4 separate regions of the Homo sapiens genome follow, and all the other regions are reported to be linked to region 2. Evidence: microRNA targets listed by miRTarBase, many of them from high-throughput screens and not tested one by one. Region 2 holds a microRNA gene; each other region holds the end of a gene's coding sequence.
The links. Region 2 holds the annotated microRNA hsa-miR-3927-3p (CAGGUAGAUAUUUGAUAGGCAU, at 1,746-1,767, shown strand). A microRNA usually pairs through its seed, bases 2 to 8, with sites in the 3' UTR of a target mRNA and lowers its output. Matches are read on the target gene's strand: a 7mer-m8 pairs with bases 2 to 8, a 7mer-A1 pairs with bases 2 to 7 and ends in A, and an 8mer does both.

Region 1: the mRNA of SH3GLB1 is a reported target of hsa-miR-3927-3p. Seed matches in the 3' UTR shown: 7mer-m8 at 1,547-1,553 and 7mer-m8 at 529-535.
Region 3: the mRNA of FAM135A is a reported target of hsa-miR-3927-3p. Seed matches in the 3' UTR shown: 7mer-A1 at 1,119-1,125.
Region 4: the mRNA of CPA4 is a reported target of hsa-miR-3927-3p. Seed matches in the 3' UTR shown: 7mer-m8 at 788-794.

Annotation. Positions count from the first base shown.
Region 1 is chr1:86,742,446-86,747,524 of GRCh38, reverse strand. It overlaps SH3GLB1 (SH3 domain containing GRB2 like, endophilin B1), which reads right to left. Exons shown (of 9, transcript NM_016009.5): 9 at 1-4,397. The coding sequence ends at 4,290. Among named protein-coding and RNA genes, the nearest start is that of SH3GLB1, 40 kb to the right of the region's middle.
Region 2 is chr9:109,508,168-109,513,246 of GRCh38, reverse strand. It overlaps MIR3927 (microRNA 3927), which reads left to right and starts at 1,702; the gene lies at 1,702-1,772. It also overlaps a transcript of PTPN3 not described here.
Region 3 is chr6:70,559,048-70,564,126 of GRCh38, forward strand. FAM135A (family with sequence similarity 135 member A) reads left to right here. Exons shown (of 22, transcript NM_001162529.3): 22 at 669-2,127. The coding sequence ends at 874. Among named protein-coding and RNA genes, the nearest start is that of SDHAF4, 5.3 kb to the right of the region's middle.
Region 4 is chr7:130,322,198-130,327,276 of GRCh38, forward strand. It overlaps CPA4 (carboxypeptidase A4), which reads left to right. Exons shown (of 11, transcript NM_016352.4): 11 at 292-1,983. The coding sequence ends at 479. The region is part of intron 1 of LOC105375503 (a long non-coding RNA gene); the gene reads right to left. Among named protein-coding and RNA genes, the nearest start is that of CPA5, 20 kb to the right of the region's middle.

The DNA of each region.
Region 1 (5,079 bases), not on the chromosome of region 2:
ACATGGACAGGGCACTGTTGTTGGTTAAGGGTTACAGAAGGCAGAGAGGATTTTTCAAGTGATGTCAGAGAATAGGCCTGAAGGTGAAATGAATGTTCTCTTAGTTCTATTGCAGTGGTTCTCAAGCTTAGAGTGCAACAGTATTACTCAAACAGCTTTTACAACAGATTGCTGGGCTCCACTCTCAGAGTTTGATTCAGTAGGTCTCTGAAAAGGCTTATAAATTTGCATTTTTCTTTCATTCAACAAAAATTTATTGAGTTCATACTATGTCCTAGATCTTGTGCTAAGAGTTGGGAATGTAACTGCCATCAAAAGAATTATAGTTTTTATCTCAGGGAGCCTACATTCTAGAGTGACAGATATACACTAAACAAATAAATTATAAAAATAACTATAATTACAATGACTACTGCTAGAACACAATTAAGATTAGAAGACTCAGTTTTTGTCTTAAAATATTTAAAAAGCTGTCACATGGAAGACTGATTCCATGAGCCCTTGAAAACAAAAAATAAGTAAAAATGAAGGTAGAAAGTTCTTGAAAATAGTAATCAGCATTTTAAACAAGTCTCCAGGAGATGCCAATATTGCCGGTCTGGGGTCTCACACTTTGCCAATCACTGCTCTACTGAGTAGACATTTTTTCTTTCCTTGAGACAAGAGTCTTATTCTATCACCCAGGTTGGAGTGCAGTGGTGCAATCTTGGCTCACTGTAGCCTCTGCCTCTGGGGTTCAAGTGATTCTCCTGCCTCAGCCTCCCGAGTAGCTGGAATTACAGGTGCACGCCACCATGCCCGGCTAATTTTTATATTTTCAGTAGAGACAGGGTTTCCCCATGTTGGCCAGGCTGGTCTCGAACTCCTGACCTCAGATGATCCACCCGCCTCAGCCTCCAAAGTGCTGGGATTACAGGCATGAGCCACGGCACCCAGCCCTGAGTAGACTTTCTAATGAGCGTAATATGGGAGAAAGGGCAGGGGTGGTTGTGGAACTCTCTCTCCAGCGTTTGAGACTCACATGAGGTAAAAGCCACTTCATCTTATCTGGAGGTCTTGAGGCAAAGTTGGCTATAGGCTAAACTATGAAGCTATCTCTCCATTACAGCACCTCACTGAAGCTTAAAGTGCTAAATAGTAGGGCAATATTTCAGAATTTCAGGTGTTTGGGAGATAGGGAAGGAATTTTTCTGGAATTCTGTCAGCATGGAGGTGAGTGGGGCCTCTATGGGTAAACAAGTCTGTGGGTTTTTGCCTTGCCCTCCATTGTCTTCTCCACTCCACAGTTTATCCCAGAAATGTTTCCCCAACACTAGCTTCCCAGTCTCACTTTGTTCTTTGTTCAGGGGGAGGATAACAGGAGACTATGAAGATGACTCTACCCCACTGGTGATCCTGGCCTCAGGATTTATTTCCCATGTGACGCAGAGTGAGGAGGCACATTCCCATTTTTGAGACCTCATTTCTTGCAACATCAATTTTTCTGATTAGCACCATAAAAAGTTTTAACACCATGACCGTTTAGGTTAGATTACTTTGAGGAAAAAGGTAGACACAATCCAATCACTTTTTTTTTCATTTATAGAAGAGCCTACAATTATTTTAGTTTTTCATTCATATGTGCATCCTTCACATGTCACTATACTTTCAGATTAAGCTCAGTGGCACAGAGCTTATTTAAACAATTCTGAACTGCACCATGAATTAATAGGCTTCCCAAGCTTTTTCTTCCACGCCCAAGAAACTTCAGGCCTTTACCTGAGTAAAAACTAAACTTGACTTTAAAATAAGCCAAAACCAAAATAAAACCCAAACAACCAAACCCCATTAAAATAAAAAGCAATAAACCTAAGAACAAGCATATATATTGTGGTGGTTCTGTGGTAGACAAACGTACCAGAAGCCTTTGAAGCTTAACATTATTGAAGGTTTCTGTACATTACTGGGTAACTAAAATCAACTTTCACTTGATGGAAAGCTGAAAGTTCTGAAAAATGATTTATACTGACTGTGGGAAGGTTAAACCTGGGGTCTGATTTAAAGAGGGTGGAGGATAGGATTGATAGAGAGAAAACAGAGCCCAGATGTAAAAGAGGTATCTCTGGTGCACAGTGATATGCAAGGCCTATAGACTTGGTAGGTCAGGATGCTACAGGGGCTAACAAGGGGAAACTGATATTTACAGGATGTGTTTACTATGTGCCAAGCCTTTCCCTGAAAGGCACCTGAAATACAAGATAACATTTGCTAATCCTCACAACCACCCTATGGTGTCATAATTATTGTCCTCATTTTACTGGTAAGGAAAAGGCAGTTATACATCTCATTTGAAGCTTAAAGAGCACAATATGTGAGGAAGACTGGATTTGAACCCAGGACCATTTCACTCCATTACCGATATTCTTTCCCCTGTATTACTACATTTCCCATAAACCTAATTCATAGTTGCTGTTTAAGTCGATCTGAAGTTTTGGTATGATCTTTCAAAGCCTAAATCTGGACTTATAAAACACAATAGATGGTACTCTAGGCTGTAGAACTTCCTTTCTGAGGGGAGAGAAAATTTCATTTACTTGGTTTTACAGAAAACTGACCAGCTTGAGCAGCTTTTCAGGGTTTCTTTAAGAATATGGCAATTGAGAGTGAGTCAAAACATCTTGTACAACTATAAAACTGCAGAAGAATTTGTCTCATGGCACAGAAATAAAAGGGTAACTACTACTTTTAAAGTTTAGACTGTGAGTTAAATTGTCAACATGTTTACCAAGTTCTTATTAGGAGCTCTTAACACAAAATTTTAAAACGGTGTTTAAGTATTCATTTTTTTAAAAGTACCAAAAAGTATCATTTTAATAGCTTAACATTCCCTCAATAAATGAACTATACTTTTGTACTTCATGCTTAAGTTAGAGTAAATTGCTTTAGTTGTCAGAATGTGCTATGCTATCTTGGTTACACATCTTTTTATCTGGAACAGTTCTTCCCCAGACCCTCTCTCACTCCCAAAACTGGAGTTACATGACTCCCAAATACAGTACCTTGTATTTTCCCCATCACACCACGAATCCTACTATAGGATAATTGCTTAATTTTCTGTATCCTTTAATGGTCTTTAAGCTCTGCAGGGGCAAGAACTGTGTGCATATTGTTCAGGACAGTATCCCCAGTTGACCAGCACAGTATCTGGCCCTCAACAAATGTTTGTTGAATGAATGAATTAGAACAGAAGTCTTAACATGGAAACAATGATTTATAGCAATGGCCCCAACAGCAATTTTCTAGCTTCCAATGTGTCACTAATAATTTCATTAGTATGTGTTTCATAAGCAGAGATCCTCATCAAGATAGCCTGTGTTCATTAATAAATTTTCAATGTTTTAATAGTAAGCTCAGAGTGACCCAATTTATTTTGTTCGTATACAATTTATAATGTAGTTGCATTATTCCGTATTTGTATACAAATCTGCTGTTCAATAAGAACACATTCTCTTTACTGTACCACAGTACAGTAAATGGATCCAATCCCAATTATGCATTAAATTGTGCCAACTGAATAATCTTAAAAACTTTATGTTTAATGAAGTAAATTTGTCCTAGATTTTCTAGAACCTTAACTACAAATTTATCAGAGAAATACGGTATTGCTTTTCAAGAACTAGTTGTTCTTAAATTTAAAAGAAACCATTCAGTAGTGTTTAAAAAACCAAACAACTCTGAAAATAACCCATCAAAACATAATATTAAAATCATTTGATTTCTGTTGGAAAACCAGGTAAACATAGTTTAAATGCGTTTTTGTCTATGAAAGCATTCAGAAAATTCTACTTTTCACAAAAGAGGTTTATATCCTACAGCTCTTTTTAAGACCGAAAGTTTAAAATAAATTTTAATTTTATTCTTTGGCTATTATTTATACCTAATAAATGAGTCGCTGATATCAATTCACAATAGATTTATTTTACATAAAAGAAAAAGCTTGCTGTTAATGAAAAATCCAGTAGAAAACAGTTCTGCTTTAAGTTGAGGCTCAAAAGTAGAAGCTGCTTATTAGTGAAACCTCAATAAAAAGAGAATTTTGTAAGAAAACATTCTTGGCATGAAAGCTCTAACATAAATTCTGTAATGAAATATTTACCATGCAACTTTATTGGCAGAAAGGCCAGTTTCTGATGGCTGGTATTTTCAGTCTCTTAACACATTAACATGGAAGATACTTAACCTGCTTTATTTAGAGTTAATTGTATATAAATACAAAGTCATGATGGGCAACCTTTCCATAGTCCACCTACTTAATTGAGCAGTTCTAAGTAGGTAATTGGCACCTTGCCCTTCTGGTTTCCCCTTTCCCCCATTAGCCAGTCTGAATCCATTCCAACAACACTGAACACAGTGATCACCTGCAAAATAAAATACTTCCAGTTATTAACTACATTAAAAAAATAAACAAGTAGAAAACCAATCAGATTTGTATTTAATTTGTTTAAATTATTCACCAAAAGGACTTTAAACGTTATTATCAATTGTGCTGAAAAACAAAGGATTTATTTATTATTATTAGTTTTTTGAGGCAGGGTCTCACTCTGTTGCCCAGGCTGTAGTGCAGCAGCATGATCACGGCTCACTGCAGCCTTGACCTTTCGTGTTCAAACGATCCTCCCACCTTAGCCTCCTGAGTAGCTGGGACTACAGGCGCACACCACCATGCCCAGCTAATTTTTCATATTTTTTGTAGAGATGAGGTGTCGCTATGTTGCCCAGGCTGGTCTTGAACTCCTGGCCTCAAGTGATCCCACTGCCTTGGCCTCCCAAAAGTGCTGAGATTACAGGTGTAAGCCACCATGTCTGGCCTAGATAAAGGATCTTATTGGAGGGAGTTTTATACATCTTCAAGTTATTTGGCAGTTAAAAGTTTTAAATATTTCTATGATATTCTATTAAAGAATATTAATTAAAATTTTATGTTAATATAACTATCTGTAATCTATGAAACCATTTCCAAATAACTAATGAGGAATTTGCATTTTGTTATAATATTAGAAGGTATGTCAATTCGTGATATATTTTCCTTCTCATACCCAC
Region 2 (5,079 bases):
GGAGTTTGAGACCAGCCTGGGAAACACAGCAGGACTTTGTCTCTACTAAAAAAAAAAGAAATTTAAGATAAATTAGCCAGATGTGGTACACATACCTGTAGTCCCAGCTACTCAGGAGTCTGAGGTGGGAGAATTGCTTAGACCCAGGAGGTTGAGGCTGCAGTGAGCCGTGTTTGTGCCACTGCACCCCAGTCTGGGCAACAGAGTGAGACCCTGTTTCAATAATAATTAATGAATTAAGAACATTTCAGATATAATACACAGCTTGAGCCAGGGCTAGTCAAAGATGTGAACCAGCCTACTGCATTAGTGTTTTGGAAGGGCTGACACTTAGGGGCAGGAGGAGGGAGGGAAAAGGACCAGGGGAAGGAAAGAACAAGGTAATGCAGGGTTCAGAGCACACAGTGCTTTAAACACCATGTGCAGGAATAAGAAATGTGTCCACGGTTTCCCTTCTCTGAAACATTTTGTGTAGGAGGTCCCAAAGGCCTGTCTCTCCCTGATTAAGGAGGAACAAGGTACCTCCTAAAGAACCCTGAATAATTACCTAAAAATAGATAAACAATTTTAATCTCCTTTATGTCATACTTATGATTAAAGTCTTAAAAATCCTGTGCTTGGTGTTTCCGGTTTCAATGTGTGGTCACACACCTTACCTCATGTAGTCTTCATGGCATTCAGGAAGCAGGTGTTACCAAATTTTGTTTGACAGATGAGACACTGAGATTTAGGAGTCCCTAACAAACATTTCTTGACGTAAAAATGAAAGCTGTCTTTTAAAAAGCTTTAAAGATTAGTGTGATAATGTTTAACTGAGTAGGTGTGTGTTCTTCTCAGGAGTGAGAAAAGTGTGTTTGGCTGCCAGATGGCTTTTGGAGACTTGTGTTGGTTAGGCCAGCAAAAATGCCCTCCAATCTGTGGACCAGCTGCACCAGCTGCACCCAGGAGCTTCTTAATAATGTAGAGTGTGAGTCTCCCCCTCCAGAGGTTTTCAGATTTGGTAGGTCAGGGGTGAGAATCTGGAAGGAATATCGTTAAAAAGCTCCTCAGGTAATTCTGATGCACGGCCAGGTGGAAGATTGGTCAATTGCCTCTTTTGGTTGCAAGGATAATTTGAGGCCCTGATGATAAAAATGTGGTCTGCAAGCCACCTGTCTCAGCATCACTCAGATGCAGTTTCCTGGACCTCGCCCTACCAAATTAGACCTACCAAATTAGAAATCTCCAGAGGTGGGCATATTTTAAACAAACTCCCAAGATCCATTTGTTCATTTATTTACAAATATTTCTTCAGGTCTAGGTATGTGATAAACACCATTCCAGGAACTGGGATATAAAGGCAAATGAGGCCAACAATGTCTCTCCCCTAAAGACACTTGAATTTTGACCCAGCTCTTTGAATGCTGGAGTTTGAGAACCACTATCTTAAAATAATACAGGGATTCAACCAAAGTTCCTATTGGGACTGCCTCAGTTATCCATTGCTGGTAACAAAACACTGCTAAAACTTAGTGGCTGAAAATGACAATGATTTTTCCCGTCCTCATGATGCAATGTGTTGGCTGGTTGATTCTCCTACAGGTCTGCTCTGGGTTCGACTGAGATAAACCTGGCCTGGCTGGGCCCCTCTCCATGAAGTTGTTCATCTCAGGCTTCTTAGGGCATGGTGGTTTCAGGTTTCCAAGAGGGCCAACCCCAATATGCCAATGCCTATCACATATCTGCCTGTCCTATGACAAACATGGCAGGTAGATATTTGATAGGCATTGGCACACTGGCAAAACGAAGTCCTATGGCCATGCTCAGCCTCAGCATGAAAGGGGAATTCACAGGAGTGTAGACACCAGAGAGTCACTTCTTTGGGGATCACTGCATTCTGTCAAAGTTACTGTGGCTGCCCCTTGAACCTGGCATCTCTTTGTGTATCTTCTCACTTCCCCACTGTTCTCTAGTTTAAACTCCTAGGTGAAGGAATCCAATTGGTCTTGCTAAGCACGTCCATGGCTCACAGTCACCCCTACTCATGGGGATTTTAGGACTCAGCAGGATTGCAAGCAGAGCTGGTGTAAAGGAGATGAGAAGGACACTAGGGGTATCTTAAGCACCATGGCTGAACCTCCCATAGGATAGTCATAAAATTCCCATGGTCAGTGCTTTAATCACCTTGATATAAAAATATGCCCCTAAATATTTTATGTATTTGTTGCTGGGAGCAAAGTTAAAGTTTTGTGTTTGATATTGATTACATGGATTTTTTTAATGTTTCTTTTTGATTTTTGGAATAACACATATATGTTGTAGAAGTTTTAAAAATACAAAAACGAAAATTAAAATCACTAGTCATAGCATTATCTAGAAAAACCTTTTAGCACATTTGCTTTCACATTTTTGCTCATAAATGTGTTCTTCTTTACAGAATTAGGCCAGCAATACAGCTTTCTGTCTTACACTCTTTGAATGCTGGAGTTTGAGAACCACTATCTTAAAATAATGCAGTGATTCAACAGGAGTTGAATCACTAGCATTATCACTAGTGCTAGCATTTTCCCACGTGATTACAATCTCCTCGTAAAATAATTTTGAGTTATATAACAATCAGTGAGACATACTATTTCATAATCATACAGTTGCTTGTTTCATATATATATATATATATATATATATATATATTTTTTTTTTTTTTTTTTTAAGACAAAGTTTCGCTCTTGTTGCCCAGGCTGGAGTGCAATGGCGCAATCTCGGCTCAATGCAACCTCTGCCTCCGGGGTTCAAGGGATTCTCCTGCCTCAGCCTCCTGAGTAGCTGGAATTACAGGCATGCACCACCACACCTGGCTAATTTTGTAGTTTTAGTAGAGACAGGGTTTCTCCATGTTGGTCAGGCTGGTCTCGAATTCCCGACCTCAGGTGATCTGCCCGCCTTGGCCTCCCAAAGTGCTAGGATTACAAGTGTGAGCCACCACGCCCAGCTGTTACATATTTTTTGGCAATTATCAGCAGTGCTATAATGACTCATTTCTGTTCATAAGCCTTTATCTGCATTTGGATTTTTCCATTGAATAGATGGGGTTCATATCTTTTCTTTATATAGCACAGTTTTTAAGATTACTTCAATGTTTCCTAATAAATAGCTAAAGAGATATTTTCCCTCCTGAATGGGACCAACACTTCCCTCTGCTGCATATGCCATATGGCTTTGCAGAATGGGTCTATTTCCTTTTGCTCCATTTCCTCTTGTTTGACAGGCCTTGTCTATCCCCATTTCCTTGTGGGTACAAAAGAGAGCCGGGCTGGGTTACGTTTTCAGTGACTTTACCAGAACTACAGACAGAGCTGTACATGTTCCCACGGTCACCTCTTTATCCAAACCATGGAAAACTGCCCTTTTTTTTTTTCCTTTCCATAACTGGCACAAGCTGTGTTTGGGTCAGGAACCCAACATCAACTACAAAGACTGACCTCCACCCAGGGAACTTGAGAAGAAGCTAGATAACACTGTTGGGAAATTATTCCCTCATGTGAATTGGCATTTGAATATGTGCTAGTATTATGCACATTTTTAAAATATCACTGAACTAAATGTAATGGAAAATAATACACTGGCCTTAGTAAGTCAAGGAACTTGGCCTGACGGGCATATCAATAAGGCAACCCAATGTCAACTAATTCACTCACTCATCACACTCTCAGTAAGTGCTAGATTCTATCCAGGAGCCCAGCATAAGAAAAGATGTTAGACAGTTAACAGTTGGAGTAGCAGACTTAAACAACTGTATATAATGTGTTAAAGTGAGAATCTAGTAGATAATGCAGAGGGAGAGGCCCCTGAGCCTATCTAGGTAATCAAAGAAAGCTGGTTACTGCAGATTGCGCAGGATTGAGAGAAATATGAAGGTTGCCTCAATGCATTTACCCTACAGTGTGAGAATAAAATACTGTCACAGAGGCTGACAACACTGGGGCAGCTTCCCATGATTGATACTGCACTATATACAATTCTAGATTGCAATGAAATCAAAACCATGAGACACTAAGAGGGTTTTAGCTTCCCTTTATTTCCTGATAATTTCAATGAGGGATTTTACAGACTTTTTAATTCTTCTGCTCAAATATGGAGGTCATAGGCCCCAGAGCTGGTTTGGAATTAGCTCACTCAGCAATACAGGTGGACAACAAAAGAATGTGCCCTTCACCTGTAGATCTTCCTTTAAAAATAAATAGAGATGGGGTCTCACTATGTTACCCAGGCTAGTCTCAAACTCCTGGCCTCAAGCAATCCTCCCACCTCGACCTCCCAAAGCACTGGGATTACAGGCATGAGCCACTGCCCACCTGCAGACCTTCTAACACAACTAGATGACTCTTGGGTGTGGAGGTTGGTGGGTGGGGGGGGGACATCCTGACTTACTTGTTACACATAGGCAAGAAATTTAGAGTGCACAGTGATATCCAATCACAGATTAGTTATACCTTATTTGGGACACTGCTGGACACATCTTTCTACATCTATCTATATCTCTTTTCTATCTACTGATTGATTATTAAGCTAGCAAGAAAAATTCTGGAAGGACTTTGACAAAGAACCTTTAGATACAACATCACCCTTCTTGCTCACTGCAGAAAAGCAAGCAATTTTTTTGTAAGGGGCACATAGCCCTTCACATATCTTGCTTAGACATAATAGTCACAGCCTAAATGGCTTCAGGAAGATCTTTCTGAAAGGGGCACACACATTGATAACTCAATGCAAGTCAAAATGTGATGAGAAGCATAAAAGAAAACAGAACAGGCCAGGCGCGGTGGCTCAAGCCTGTAATCCCAGCACTTTGGGAGGCCGAGGCAGGCAGATCACAAGGTCAGGAGATTGAGACCATCCTGGCTAACACGGTGAAACCCCATCTCTACTAAAAATACAAAAAATTAGCCAGGCATAGTGGCAGGCGCCTGTAGTCCCAGCTACTTGGGACGCTGAGGCAGGAGAATGGCATGAACCCGGGAGGCAGAGCTTGCAGTGAGCCAAGATCGCGCCGCTGCACTCCAGCCTGGGTGACAGAGCGAAACGCCATCTCAAAAAAAAAAA
Region 3 (5,079 bases), not on the chromosome of region 2:
ACCATGTCTAGCTTATTTTCATAATTGTTTAATGAGTTATAAGTGACTTAACATTAAAGAAAACTATTTCTTTGTTATAGGCATTGCTTTGAGTTAAAAATACCAAATTTCGGCTGGGCGCAGGGGCTCACGCCTGTAATCCCAGCACTTTGGGAGGCTGAGGCGGGAGGATCGCCTGAGGTCAGGAGTTCGAGACCAGCCTGGCCAACATGGTGAAACCCCAACTCTATTAAAAATACAAAAATTAACTGGGTGTGGTGGTGCATGCCTGTAATCCCAGCTACTCAGGAGGCGGAGACAGGAGAATGGCTTGAACCCGGGAGGCAGAGGTTGCAGTGAGCCAAGACCACACCATTGCACTCCAGCCTGGGCAACAAGAGTGAAACTCCATCTCAAAAATAAAAAAAAAAAAAAATCAAATTTCAAGAATAATGTATAATAAATTTGTTATTTCCACTTGACTAGATAATGTGATTACTTACATTTTCTATAAACAGAACCAAAAATGATAGTTGAAGGAAAATTAAACCTTTTTAAAAAGAGCCATTTTTCTGCTTTATATGGAAATAATGTAACTAAATTTTATAACTTATCTAAAAATTGGCATAGTTTTTTTATTTTCAGTTACTATTGTGAACTAATTTTCCTTTTTTCTGTTGGTTCCATAGGACAGATCTATTCAGAAATGATCCACAACTTGCTTCGACCCGTTCTGCAAAGCAAGGACTGTAATTTGGTTCGCTATAATGTCATCAATGCATTGCCCAATACAGCTGATTCACTCATTGGGAGAGCTGCACATATAGCTGTTCTTGATTCGGAAATATTTTTAGAGAAATTCTTTCTGGTTGCTGCCCTCAAATATTTCCAATAGTATAAAAGCATTGTTAGCGACTGGACAATTACCTCATTCAACAATGTTTCAAATAATGTATTATATTAAAATGTAGATGCTGATAAGTTCTAAGAAATATTTATACCTTTTTATATGGAAGATAATTTATATCATCCATGTTTAGTGCTTTTTAAACATCAACTTTACTTTCTAGGTAATGTGGCTGTGCAATATTTTTTTAATTTTATCTTTTTACTTTTCTATTACTTTTTCATATATTTTGCTACCTAAGTATTTCAGTGAAACTTTAAGCCCATACCTGTGTCTGATTGTTTATTATTGGCTTTCCACAATTCTTACATCAGACTACATTATATTAGAGACCATTATTGCTAGAATAGCATGGGATTTAAAATTTTCTAATACTGGGGGTATTATTTAGTTAATTATAAATTTTTCTTTTCACATTTTACTGTGTTTTAACTGGAAATAAAATTATGGCTGCTACAATATATTTTTTGAAATCAACTTCTGTAGTTCTAAAATACAACTTTATCATACAATCAAACCAGGTAGTTCATATAAAACAGTGTAATACAAGTTTTCTATAAAGTCATTACTGTTGCTTAAACATATTTCATGCCTATTAAAATATATTTTCTACTGGTGATTTCAACATTATTTCTCATACTGACTTTTATTACTGGAAATGTTCCTGTACATGTTGGCAGCAGATAAAGATTTTTGAATGTTTGAATGCCCTCTGCCTTGATTTGGTTGGAATTTTTGCTAAATTGGTAATGTTGCTTGAACTTTATGACTACATTTTCTTTTAACTTTTTTCATGGACTTCCTTATATGTACATAATAATTAAATGTTGAAATTTATGAAATACTTTTATGAATTTAGATAATTTTTAAATATTGTTAAAATTTATTGAACTAAAAAGTAATGTAAATAAAATAATTCATGTTAAAGATGGAACAAAATAATTAACTTTACATGTTTGGTGATACAGATGCAAATGTTTTTGATATATGGAGATGTTGAGTCTTTTGACTTTACTAAAGGTGCTGAATAGCATTAAATTCACTATTTTCCTTTTCTGTTTTACTTGTGAAAATAAAAATGCACTAAGGTTGGGTAGAAGTTCTGTTTGCACTCACTAATTGTGACAGACAGAGGTTTTTGTAAGTATTTATTGTACAATTGATGCATGTTTATTTTTAGCGTTGTTATTGCCTCTGGTGTTAATAAATGAACAAATGGCTATCTGGAGGAACAGCTACAACCCTTGTAATCCTTTGCTTATTCTCTGAATACTAGAGGTATATATATTTTATTTATAACATAGACCAGCCTAATTATATAACTTGTAGCCTTTGTATTTTTATATCTTTTGTATATATTATTATAGTTAAAATAATTTTGATTGCTATTGATAATTATTTACTTTTTAGAAAGTACTCAAAATTTTTATAAACTAATATCCCAAGTGCATTATAACTAGAAAATGTAAATATATTAATTAGCCACCACATATTTTTGCCAAGCACATTTTTTATATTCCTATATCTTGGCTCTGAGTTTGAAATGTGCATATTCAAAGTTTGGATAATTTTCAGGTTTATCAAAGGACTCAATCATATAAATAGTATTTGAGTGGAAATTGCTCTTATCATAGTTGATTGATTAGTTTTTGGTTATTTTAATACAGTTCTAAAAGCACATCTGTGTTCATGGTTTAAAATCTAACAAATTTAACTTACTTGATTTATCTGGGAAACCACCACACACTATTCACCTCCAAATTCAGATTGTGGGAGATGGGGTACAGTTATGGGGGAGAGAGGAAACAATGATCTGAAATGGTATTATTGACTCTTACTTTAGAGAATGAATCTCATTGAAGTATACCAGTAAGAGTTCTTGGTTGCAAACAACAAAAAAAATTATGATCAACCTAAACAGAAAAAGAATTTATTGGAGGAGGATCAGGTAGCTCACAGAATTGATGGAAAGGCTAGAGAGCCAGGTTTGGAAAACAAATAGAAGCCAAAGGAAAGTAGATGACCAAAAGCATAGCCAAGTTCTGATGACCTCAGAGCTAAATGACTGTATTCTTCTCTAGCCAGGATGACCCTGGAAACTGGATTTCAAGTACTTGTTTTATCACTTCAGATTCAAAGCGTAGTAGAATGTCCAACTGACCAAGTTTAAGTCTTGTGCCAGTGCTTGGGCTGTCAGGCATCAAAGACAGCAGATGTATCTGACCTCGTTAGTTTCCACAGTAGAAAATGGGACCCTTTATTCTACCAAGGTTAACCAAACATATGAAATGGGTTTGATGACAGCACCAAATATAAAAACACATCAGGTGTAATATAGTCCATCTTTTTGTCTTCCCAACATCTGCAAGCATAATTCTCTCCATATTTACACATTTAAAATGCATCTTTCTGACATAGTACTACTATCCCTCATCCAGTTTTAAGTCCAGGACCTCAGTGTGATGTTCTCTGATTCTGTAATAATCTCATCTCAATAGTGTGCAACTCATAGACAAAATTGTGACCTAACCACCACCCCTATACATAATAACAGTATAATAGGAAAGAAGCTGGGCGTGGTGGCTTATGACTGTAATCCCAGCACTTTGGGAGGCTGAGGTGAGAGGATCACTTGAGCTAGGAATTCAAGACCAGCCTGGGCAACATAGCAAGACCCCATCTCTAGAAAATAATTTAAGTGAGCCTGGTGGCATGCACCTGTAGTCCCAGCTACTTGGAAGACTGAGGTGGGAGGATCACTTGAGTCCAGGAGTTCAAGGTTGCAGTGAGTTACTGCACTTCAGCCTGGGCGACAGGGAGACCCCCCAACTCAAATATATATATACATATGAAATAAGAGAAAATTTTATAAACATGCATGAGCCAGTGAGGAAGAAAACAAAATAGAGCAGGGCTTTGCAATGTCCGTGCCAAGAATTACCTAGACTACTTTAAAAATACACATTCTAGGACCTTATTACGGACCACCTGAATCAGAATTTTCAGGATAGTGTAAAAGCAGCAGCATGTTTTATGTCCCAAATTTCTCTAATAACACGTCGCAAATACAGTACTTAGTCCTGTCAGTGGTCGTGAATCTAGATGGTTATGACTTCTCACCACTGCCAACTATTTTCTGTTTTCTTTATGTTCAAGCAGCACCTCTGCTGATCAGATTTATGTATCCAGTGGATGACAGAGGATCTGAGGTGTGGGTGGTCTTGCCTATATATGGTTGTAATAGTCTTATATGTAAATGTTACCATTCAGCATGGTATTTTTTAAAATAAAATATAAAAACATGGTATTGTGAGGAGGGATTCCAGGAGACCCCCCTGACTTCTGGTTATACTGTTCTCCCTACTCTCTTTTCTCCATGGTCATCAGGGCCAATCACTCCAGCTAGCACCATCACCACTTTCTCTAACCTTACCTAGAGGAATGAGGTCAAAATGGCTGGGTGGCAATTCCAGCTGGGCACAAAAATTGCTATACCAACAGAACCTGGACTCAGAGATGGCTAGCAAGAGTAGTGAAGGGTCTGAGATTTTATCCTACTTGCAAGGTTACAGGCTAGGTTGCTGCAGTTTCATGGATGATGACAGGATACTCCTGGACAAAAGACAAAACAGCTTTATTACAGCAAAATAGAAGCCAGAGTGTCCGCATATTTGCATCAGTTCCCGTAGCCCAATTCCCACAGTGTGATGCAGAGGGCCGGATGACGTCTGTGCACATGGGGGGTTGCATTACAGAAGAATCCAGGATCAAGAATCAAGCAGTTTTTGAGCAAACAACAAACAAGCTAGTCTCTCTCCCCCAGGGAGCAGCAGTTAAATGGTAGTAATGCTGTGATTGCCTTGACCTACTTAGGTGCCTATATGACTAACTACAGAAACTGCTTAGCATCAGGAGATGGATACGGCTTGCAGTCTGGCACACTCAGTAATAATATACAGGCATGTTCAGGGGCCTTCGGAGCTTGTCTCTTCTCTACTACAATGGAAAGCAAAATATATTTTATATCAGTAAGTCATATGCAATAGTAAGAAGTCAGACCCTTTTCTACTCTTTGATCTCTGTTATTCTGTCAACAGAAGATATATCACCAAATACCGTTGACTCATTTGGAAAATATGACAAATCCTTTAGGGCAGTATCCCAAAGTGTATTTTCTCACCTCGTTCCAAAAC
Region 4 (5,079 bases), not on the chromosome of region 2:
TACTCTCTATAGAGATTGGTTTTGAGGGACTTACAGGACGGACACAGCGTTAGTAATAAGGTGGGAGTAGGGGTTTCAGATCTCTTGATTTGAGACCAGTGTGCACCTCAGGCCAATGCAGGATGTCCTGAGACATAGGGATCAGGCTGATGATTTTGTCATAGGACTGATGACTTGAGGAGCAAACTCTGGATTCCTTAAGGAACCCCAGGCAGGCAGAGCTCTTGGCCCCTTCCCATCTAACCCAGGAGGGAACTGGGCTTCAAGAGTGTTTTGTCCTCCGACTTACAGATCCAGCTAGCGGGAGCAGCATCGACTGGGCATATGACAACGGCATCAAATTTGCATTCACATTTGAGTTGAGAGATACCGGGACCTATGGCTTCCTCCTGCCAGCTAACCAGATCATCCCCACTGCAGAGGAGACGTGGCTGGGGCTGAAGACCATCATGGAGCATGTGCGGGACAACCTCTACTAGGCGATGGCTCTGCTCTGTCTACATTTATTTGTACCCACACGTGCACGCACTGAGGCCATTGTTAAAGGAGCTCTTTCCTACCTGTGTGAGTCAGAGCCCTCTGGGTTTGTGGAGCACACAGGCCTGCCCCTCTCCAGCCAGCTCCCTGGAGTCGTGTGTCCTGGCAGTGTCCCTGCAAGAACTGGTTCTGCCAGCCTGCTCAATTTTGGTCCTGCTGTTTTTGATGAGCCTTTTGTCTGTTTCTCCTTCCACCCTGCTGGCTGGGCGGCTGCACTCAGCATCACCCCTTCCTGGGTGGCATGTCTCTCTCTACCTCATTTTTAGAACCAAAGAACATCTGAGATGATTCTCTACCCTCATCCACATCTAGCCAAGCCAGTGACCTTGCTCTGGTGGCACTGTGGGAGACACCACTTGTCTTTAGGTGGGTCTCAAAGATGATGTAGAATTTCCTTTAATTTCTCGCAGTCTTCCTGGAAAATATTTTCCTTTGAGCAGCAAATCTTGTAGGGATATCAGTGAAGGTCTCTCCCTCCCTCCTCTCCTGTTTTTTTTTTTTTGAGACAGAGTTTTGCTCTTGTTGCCCAGGCTGGAGTGTGATGGCTCGATCTTGGCTCACCACAACCTCTGCCTCCTGGGTTCAAGCAATTCTCCTGCCTCAGCCTCTTGAGTAGCTTGGTTTATAGGCGCATGCCACCATGCCTGGCTAATTTTGTGTTTTTAGTAGAGACAGGGTTTCTCCATGTTGGTCAGGCTGGTCTCAAACTCCCAACCTCAGGTGATCTGCCCTCCTTGGCCTCCCAGAGTGCTGGGATTACAGGTGTGAGCCACTGTGCCGGGCCCGTCCCCTCCTTTTTTAGGCCTGAATACAAAGTAGAAGATCACTTTCCTTCACTGTGCTGAGAATTTCTAGATACTACAGTTCTTACTCCTCTCTTCCCTTTGTTATTCAGTGTGACCAGGATGGCGGGAGGGGATCTGTGTCACTGTAGGTACTGTGCCCAGGAAGGCTGGGTGAAGTGACCATCTAAATTGCAGGATGGTGAAATTATCCCCATCTGTCCTAATGGGCTTACCTCCTCTTTGCCTTTTGAACTCACTTCAAAGATCTAGGCCTCATCTTACAGGTCCTAAATCACTCATCTGGCCTGGATAATCTCACTGCCCTGGCACATTCCCATTTGTGCTGTGGTGTATCCTGTGTTTCCTTGTCCTGGTTTGTGTGTGTGTGTGTGTGTGTGTGTGTGTGTGTGTGTGTGTTTGTGTGTGTGTGTCTGTCTATTTTGTATCCTGGACCACAAGTTCCTAAGTAGAGCAAGAATTCATCAACCAGCTGCCTCTTGTTTCATTTCACCTCAGCACGTACCATCTGTCCTTTTGTTGTTGTTTTGTTTTTGTTTTTTTGCTTTTACCAAACATGTCTGTAAATCTTAACCTCCTGCCTAGGATTTGTACAGCATCTGGTGTGTGCTTATAAGCCAATAAATATTCAATGTGAGTTTCATGATCATCTCCTATTCTTTGCCTTCACCTGAATGGAACCAAGCTATAGTTTTGAATATGCAACTCTTTATAATGTCAGAAGTCGACTTTAATCCCTGTCTGTATCGCATGACATGTAAGAAGTCCTCCTTCATCAGGCCAAGGGGCCTCCAGGGCAATGTTACCTTGGTGATTTCACTCTGGTCCTGGGTCTAATTCTTAGCTTTTCAGCTCAAAAGCTTGATAGTCTCAGTGTCCATGTTGATTAAACTAGGGGATGCTGACTCACGCCTACAGACCTCAGATGAGGCAGATGATAAAATCAGAATGCGAATTTATTAATTTACATCGTGGCATGTAACCGGTGAGTGGATTGGATCCTCACGTCGGCCTGAGCAGTACATTCTCTCCCTGTAGGCAAGATACATGGGAAGCCAAATTATAATCAGAAGGTTGCTTAGTGAGCGGGCGTCAGAGCAAGGAAAGTTAATTAAAGTCTATGATTAGACTTTTTAATAGCACCCAGCTCTAATAGCATGATATATCCAGTTCTATAGCCAGAGCACACCTGCCAGTCAGCCAGCTGGCCGCTTGTGCTGGCTGGTCAGGACTGCCTCAGACAGTTATGCTGTGCCTCGGTAAGCATAAACAAGCTTGCCTCTGTGACTGGCCTCTGACCTGGGCCTAATTGTGATCACTCCCCTCAGACTCAGATTATCCTTCAGATTCCTTAAGGGAAAGATTTATTTTAAAATTTTATTATTATTTCTTTCTATAGAGAGATGGGGCCTTGCTATGTTGCCCAGGCTGGTCTTGAACTCCTGGCCTCAAGCAATCCTCCAACCTTGGCCTCCCAAAGTGCTGGGATTACAGATGTGAGCCACCACACCCGGCCAAGGGAAAGACTGCTTAAACGAGACATAAATGCCAGATACTATAATGAAATTAGAGCTTTTGTTCATTAAAAGATATAGAAACGGAGAAAACAAGTTAAAGGCCAGGAGAGGATGTTCACCATATTTCTAATACAAACAACAGACAAAGAATGTATGAAGAACTTCAACAAATCAATAAAGAAAGCACAGATAACCCAATAGAAAAATGCACCAAAGGTATAACGAAGCATTTCACATAAGAGGAAGCACAGGCCGTGCATGGTGGCACATCCCTATAATCCCAACACTCTGGGAGGCCGAGGTGGGAAGATTGCCTGAGCCCAGGAGTTAGAGACCAACCTGGGCAACAAAGTGAGACATTGTTTCAACAAAAATAAAAACAAAATAAAAATAAAAAATTAGCTGAGTGTGGTGGCAAGCACCTATAGTTTCAGCTACTCAGGAAGCTGAGGTGGAAGGATCACTTGAGCCCAGGAGTTTGAGACCAGCTTCAGCAACATAGTAAGACCCCGCCCCCAATGTCTCTATAAGAAAAGGAAAAAGATTATCTGGGTGTGGTGGTGTGCACCTGTAGTCCCAGCTACTTGGGAGGCTGAGGTGGGAGGATTGCTTGAGCCCAGGAGTTTGAGGCTGTAGTGAATTATGATCAAACCACTGCACTTCAGCCTTGGTGACAGAGTAAGACCCTGTCTCCAAAAAAAAAAAAAAAAAAAAAAAGAAGAAGCAGATATATCTGATCAACATATGAAAGGATGATTAGTGATTGAGGACACACAAATCAAGACTGCAATGAGATGCCATTTTATACTCATTCAATTTACAAAAATCAAAAAGTTGGAGAGGATGTGAATGGCAGAGTCTCATACCTTATTGGTGGGCAGCTGAATTAGTAAAACTACTTTACAAAACAGTTTGACATCTTCTCAAGTTTACACCTTATGATCCAGCTATTCCACCTTAGGCATGGCCTCAAGAAATTCTTGCAATTGTACAGCAGGAGACATAGGCAAGAATGTTCACAGCAACATTGTTCACAATAGTAAAAACCTAAAAATAACTCAGAATACCATCAGTGGGAGAATGGGTGAAAAAGGTATGGTACATTCACATACTGAGATATTATACAACAGTCAAAACAAAATTTAGTATGATTTCCCTTCTAGAAAGATCCAAACACCTGAAAAAAAATGTATGCATACTTTTATAGAAGATATACAAATTTTGATGAAACTATATAAAGAGAGAAGCAAGCCATAGTGGACATATCCAGACCCCGCTTCCTGGCTGAATGCACAGATCCCAGTGGCTGTTAAGTATTGGCTGCCAATGTTCAGGGCTACATCCCTCTCTAAAGAATTGCTCTTGGCCAAATGGGGGTTGCCTCACCCAGGAGGCTGTGCACCTGTCTTTTCTTTTACCATCATCCCAAATGTCCACCCATGACAGACTGGCTCAGGCGTACACACAGCTAGCTCTTTGCTTCAAGGTGGGATCAACACTTTGGCGCAACAAGTGTTCCAGAGCTCCCATGGGGTCGGGCTAGAGCTCCAGATGATTTCAGGCAAGTCATCCTTGCTTAGCTTTTTTTCCTGCCCCACCTGTTTTCCTCACTCTCCTCCTGAGACAACTCCCCTTCATATCACTTGCATAAGAATCTCCATCTTGCGTTCTGCTTTTAGGAAGACTAAGACAACAGGAAATGGAGAACCTGGGATTCCTGAATGATGATTCCTTCAAATGGGGAGAGGTAGAGGATGAGAGAGGGACAGGGCCCTATGGTTAGAGGACAAAGCTTAGCTTTTGTCTTAGATTCTGCTTTTTCAGGTGTTTATTACGTGATTTTTTTTTTTAAAGTAGAGACAAGGGTCTCCCTATGTAGCTTAGGTCAGTCTTGAACCCTTGGCCTCAAGTAATTCTCCTGCCTTGGCCTCCCAAAGTGCTGGGATTACAGGTGTGAGCCACTGCACTCAGCCTATTATATGATTTTTTTAAAAACCTAATTAAGTAGCTAAATAAATAATTAAAAGAGGACCATGCGGCTGGGCATGGTGGCTCACGCCTGTAATCCCAGCACTTTGGTAGGCCGAGGCAGGCAGATCACGAGGTCAGGAGATCGAGACCATCCTGGCTAACACGGTGAAACCCCGTCTCTACTAAAAAAAAATAGAAAAAAAATTAGCCAGGTGTGGTGGCGGGCACCTGTAGTCCCAGCTACTAGGGAG